Regions from separate parts of the Homo sapiens genome. Here region 1 is linked to region 2. The links come from fine-mapping of genetic effects on plasma protein levels. Region 2 holds a variant in brackets. A gene starts in the other region. All regions are shown on their reverse strands.

Region 1 (2,829 bases), not on the chromosome of region 2:
GGCTCTAAGTGCATCATAGGCAATTATTTCCAGACCATTCAGGAATAAACCAACGCAAACCAATGAAATTCTTATGACTTTCATTATTATAAGTGCCCTAGCTTCCAGGGGGAAAGGAGTAAGAAACTTTTTTTTTTTTTTTTTTTTTGAAGACAGGGTCTCACTTCCAAAGTCCAGGCCAGCTTGCAATAGCACTATTACAGCTCACTGCAGTCTCAACTTCCTAGGCTCAGGTGATTCTCCCACCTCAGCCTCCGGAGTAGCTGGGATTACAGGTGGGTGCCAACATCCCCAGCTAATTTTTTGTATTTTTAGTAGAGACAGCCTCACCATGTTGCTCAGGCTGGTCTCAAACTCCTGAGCTCAAATGATAAGCCTGCCTCAACCTTCCAAAGTGCCGAGATTTATAGGCGTTGAGTCACCACACCTGGCTGAAACTGCATGTTTTTGAGTACCTACCTTGGGTCAAGCACTTACCAAGTATTAATTGACAATCCTCACAATGGCTCTGTGAGGTAAGTACCGTGGTCCTCATTTCAAAGATGAGCTCTGCCTCAGGAAAGCTTAAAAACTATCAGAAGTTTCCTCAACTAACAGGAGAAAGACTCAGGATTCAAACTCCAGTCTTTCTAGGCCAAGCTGTTGTTCTAGATTTTACTGACAGCAAATAAAGTTTAAAAGGAGGTTTTAAATGGGCAGCTGCTACCCTTAGCCACAGGCAGGAGCCCCATGCTCAGTTTGAGCAGAAAAATGGGCTTCCCCTTGAGTTCTCCTCTTAATAATGAAATGGCTCTCCACTGCCCAGTTTTTAGCTTGTTTTCCTATGAAGAAGTTTGAATAAGAAGCCTCTTCCCATGAAAGCATTGCCTTCCTGAGCGTAGTGACCAGCCTTGAGCTTTACATGGCAGTGACTTTTCCTGCTGTCCCCATCCAAACTGGGGGGGATAGCTTTCCTGCTACCTAACTCAATTTTCTAATGCAAAGGAAAAGCAACCTGCCTTCTTCATTCACTATCTTATTTAGAGACATTCTCTATACTAGAGTCCCGGGGTTTTTATAAGCCACACAAACAATAATGCATTACTTCAATTATTATCTATTGTGTGTTTTGGGGGCTTCTTGATAACAGCAGATTGGAGCACACTTGGCTGGTTTGCCCTTATTAAACCGTGAAGGTCACTTCTCTTCCAGGGCCTGTAATCAACGAGCCCTCTCTTCTCTTCCACAAATGCATCTCTTCCAGAGCCTTTGCAATTATGGCTCATTTCTCTAGGTTTCATATGGCAGGCGTCTGAACAGAATTAAAAGCATGAGCACGTGCAAAAATAATCCGCTTCCCAAGATAGTAAATGCTGAGAAGTTCTATATTAGAACACACTGTGAGTGCTGACTGGCTAGGGCATGATTAACCTAATAGGCTTAAGCTGCACTTGCTATCCACATCTGTCAGGACGCGAGCAAAACACAGGCCCGTAATCCACCAGGCTGGGAGCCTTCAGAATTGTCCCGCTGCTCACTAACAGCAGAGGGTTCCAAACTTAGAACAACAACAGGACGACAGGTACCACTCCCTCTTCACATTTGGACCAAGAAAATAAAGAAAGCTGGTTCCAAGTTTAGGATATTGTACCATGGACTTCAAAGAATTCTGGCCTGAAAATTGCCTGGATGGACTAGTAAGATTGCCTTTTGTTCCTATTTCAAATATGATTCTTGGAAAATTGTGAAGGTGGGTGGAAGATGACTACAAGCTGAAATCATGGGGTGTACACCTTCACACAGTGACCTTGTAAACAGCGTTGCAAAGAGTGGCATTCAGTTCTTGAAAAAGCCCAAAGCAATTCGGCCAGGATGTCAGGGCGGAAGTGAAAGAGGTTCCATCCCTTTGCTGGTTAAAAACTCCACCTGCTATGACGCTGGGGAGGGCCTGGCAGAGGAGCAGCCAAGTCCCAGGAGGAACCAAACCACAGCTAAAGGTCTTTGTCAGCTCATGGGAGATCCTGCTTCAGGCAAAAGGAAAGATATGGAAGGACTGATCCCAGGAACCAAAACCTCTTCATCCCAGCTGAACAAATCACAAAGCCACATGGCTAAGGATATTCCGTTCAAGACACAGGGTTCCCATGGATCACAAGGGGCAGACTTTTCTGGAGATGAGAGTGAGGAAAGTAGTACCCAAGATACTTCCAAATGGAAAAGGACAGCAAAATGTCACACGTCAAGCACACAGAGCCACTGCTACCAAACCATCCACCCTGCTCATGAGCCTGAAGGCAAAGTGGACTTCCCGGAGCCTCTGGTAAAGGCCCACCAGCAGGCTTACACCTATCTACACTCCAGCCTCTCCAAATATGAAGCAATTCTGTGCATCATCCATCAGGCCACCCAGACCCGGGAGCTGCTGCAGCCCATGGTCAGCTTCTTGCTGCTGTGCTTTGAGGAGATCAGCCAGCTGTTGGGGGAGATCTCCAAGGATGGAGAAGTGCTCCTGCAGGAAGTCAGGGAGGATCTGGCTTGGCCTTTGAAGAAAAGAGAGCCCCAGGAGCAGCCAAATCTCCTGCAACAGCTGCTACAGTACACAGTCAGCAAGCTGCAGGTGCTCAATGGCACAGTGGCCTCGCTCACCGGCAGCTTCCTGGAGGGCTCCAGCAGCTACCTCCACTCCACTGCAACCCACTTGGAAAATAAGCTGAGCACAAAAAGGAATGTGGATGAACGCCTCCTGAGGGCTCTGAGGCAGCTAGAGAGCCTGGCGAGTGGCTGTGGCGACCCTGGGGTGCAGGGTCTCCCCTTATGCTCTGAGGACAGTGGCATTGGTGCTGACAATGA
Region 2 (2,910 bases):
CACAGGCAATTGCACAATGATACAGACATATATTTAGTATATGAGACATCGATGATGTATCCCCAAATAAACGACTTTAAAGAGATAAAGGGCTGATGTGTGGTGGCATTCACCTCCCTGGGATCCCCGGACAGGTTGCAGGCTCACTGTGCAGCAGGGCAGGCGGGTACCTGCTGGCAGTTCCTGGGGCCTGATGTGGAGCAAGCGCAGGGCCATATATCCCGGAGGACGGCACAGTCAGTGAATTCCAGAGAGAAGCAACTCAGCCACACTCCCCAGGCAGAGCCCGAGAGGGACGCCCACGCACAGGGAGGCAGAGCCCAGCACCTCCGCAGCCAGCACCACCTGTGCACGGGCCACCACCTTGCAGGCACAGAGTGGGTGCTGAGAGGAGGGGCAGGGACACCAGGCAGGGTGAGCACCCAGAGAAAACTGCAGACGCCTCACACATCCACCTCAGCCTCCCCTGACCTGGACCTCACTGGCCTGGGCCTCACTTAACCTGGGCTTCACCTGACCTTGGCCTCACCTGACTTGGACCTCGCCTGTCCCAAGCTTTACCTGACCTGGGCCTCAACTCACCTGAACGTCTCCTGACCTGGGTTTAACCTGTCCTGGAACTCACCTGGCCTTGGCTTCCCCTGACCTGGACCTCATCTGGCCTGGGCTTCACCTGGCCTGGGCCTCACCTGACCTGGACCTCATCTGGCCTGGACCTCACCTGGCCTGGACTTCACCTGGCCTGGGCTTCACCTGACCTGGACCTCACCTGGCCTCGGGCCTCACCTGCACCTGCTCCAGGTCTTGCTGGAGCCTGAGTAGCACTGAGGGTGCAGAAGCTCATCCAGGGTTGGGGAATGACTCTAGAAGTCTCCCACATCTGACCTTTCTGGGTGGAGGCAGCTGGTGGCCCTGGGAATATAAAAATCTCCAGAATGATGACTCTGTGATTTGTGGGCAACTTATGAACCCGAAAGGACATGGCCATGGGGTGGGTAGGGACATAGGGACAGATGCCAGCCTGAGGTGGAGCCTCAGGACACAGGTGGGCACGGACACTATCCACATAAGCGAGGGATAGACCCGAGTGTCCCCACAGCAGACCTGAGAGCGCTGGGCCCACAGCCTCCCCTCAGAGCCCTGCTGCCTCCTCCGGTCAGCCCTGGACATCCCAGGTTTCCCCAGGCCTGCCGGTAGGTTTAGAATGAGGTCTGTGTCACTGTGGTATTACGATATTTTGACTGGTTATTATAACCACAGTGTCACAGAGTCCATCAAAAACCCATGCCTGGAAGCTTCCCGCCACAGCCCTCCCCATGGGGCCCTGCTGCCTCCTCAGGTCAGCCCCGGACATCCCGGGTTTCCCCAGGCTGGGCGGTAGGTTTGGGGTGAGGTCTGTGTCACTGTGGTATTACTATGGTTC[G/A]GGGAGTTATTATAACCACAGTGTCACAGAGTCCATCAAAAACCCATCCCTGGGAGCCTCCCGCCACAGCCCTCCCTGCAGGGGACCGGTACGTGCCATGTTAGGATTTTGATCGAGGAGACAGCACCATGGGTATGGTGGCTACCACAGCAGTGCAGCCTGTGACCCAAACCCGCAGGGCAGCAGGCACGATGGACAGGCCCGTGACTGACCACGCTGGGCTCCAGCCTGCCAGCCCTGGAGATCATGAAACAGATGGCCAAGGTCACCCTACAGGTCATCCAGATCTGGCTCCGAGGGGTCTGCATCGCTGCTGCCCTCCCAACGCCAGTCCAAATGGGACAGGGACGGCCTCACAGCACCATCTGCTGCCATCAGGCCAGCGATCCCAGAAGCCCCTCCCTCAAGGCTGGGCCACATGTGTGGACACTGAGAGCCCTCATGTCTGAGTAGGGGCACCAGGAGGGAGGGGCTGGCCCTGTGCACTGTCCCTGCCCCTGTGGTCCCTGGCCTGCCTGGCCCTGACACCTGAGCCTCTCCTGGGTCATTTCCAAGACAGAAGACATTCCTGGGGACAGCCGGAGCTGGGCGTCGCTCATCCTGCCCGGCCGTCCTGAGTCCTGCTCATTTCCAGACCTCACCGGGGAAGCCAACAGAGGACTCGCCTCCCACATTCAGAGACAAAGAACCTTCCAGAAATCCCTGCCTCTCTCCCCAGTGGACACCCTCTTCCAGGACAGTCCTCAGTGGCATCACAGCGGCCTGAGATCCCCAGGACGCAGCACCGCTGTCAATAGGGGCCCCAAATGCCTGGACCAGGGCCTGCGTGGGAAAGGTCTCTGGCCACACTCGGGCTTTTTGTGAAGGGCCCTCCTGCTGTGTGACTACAGTAACTACCATAGTGATGAACCCAGTGGCAAAAACTGGCTGGAAACCCAGGGGCTGTGTGCACGCCTCAGCTTGGAGCTCTCCAGGAGCACAAGAGCCGGGCCCAAGGATTTGTGCCCAGACCCTCAGCCTCTAGGGACACCTGGGCCATCTCAGCCTGGGCTGGTGCCCTGCACACCATCTTCCTCCAAATAGGGGCTTCAGAGGGCTCTGAGGTGACCTCACTCATGACCACAGGTGACCTGGCCCTTCCCTGCCAGCTATACCAGACCCTGTCTTGACAGATGCCCCGATTCCAACAGCCAATTCCTGGGACCCTGAATAGCTGTAGACACCAGCCTCATTCCAGTACCTCCTGCCAATTGCCTGGATTCCCATCCTGGCTGGAATCAAGAAGGCAGCATCCGCCAGGCTCCCAACAGGCAGGACTCCCGCACACCCTCCTCTGAGAGGCCGCTGTGTTCCGCAGGGCCAGGCCCTGGACAGTTCCCCTCACCTGCCACTAGAGAAACACCTGCCATTGTCGTCCCCACCTGGAAAAGACCACTCGTGGAGCCCCCAGCCCCAGGTACAGCTGTAGAGAGAGTCCTCGAGGCCCC

Which allele goes with the higher level. Alleles are on the strand shown, and positions count from the first base shown. The strength of an association depends on the size of the effect and on how common the allele is.
With allele A in place of G in region 2, the plasma level of the protein whose gene starts at base 1,498 in region 1 is higher (strong association).

Evidence for each region. PIP is the posterior inclusion probability: the model's chance that the variant is causal. The UK Biobank Pharma Proteomics Project read protein levels with antibody pairs (Olink). The fine-mapping took linkage between variants from a reference panel, not from the people measured, so its PIPs are less certain.
Region 1: it holds the start of PCARE, and the variant in region 2 is fine-mapped to the plasma level of the PCARE protein (UK Biobank, PIP above 0.99).

What each region holds. Positions count from the first base shown.
Region 1 is chr2:29,073,192-29,076,020 of GRCh38, reverse strand. It overlaps PCARE (photoreceptor cilium actin regulator), which reads left to right and starts at 1,498. Exons shown (of 2, transcript NM_001029883.3): 1 at 1,498-2,829. The coding sequence starts at 1,760.
Region 2 is chr14:105,903,026-105,905,935 of GRCh38, reverse strand. It overlaps IGH, IGHD4-11, IGHD3-10 and IGHD3-9. Among named protein-coding and RNA genes, the nearest start is that of FAM30A, 13 kb to the left of the region's middle. The variant G/A (reference allele first, on the strand shown) is at 1,424.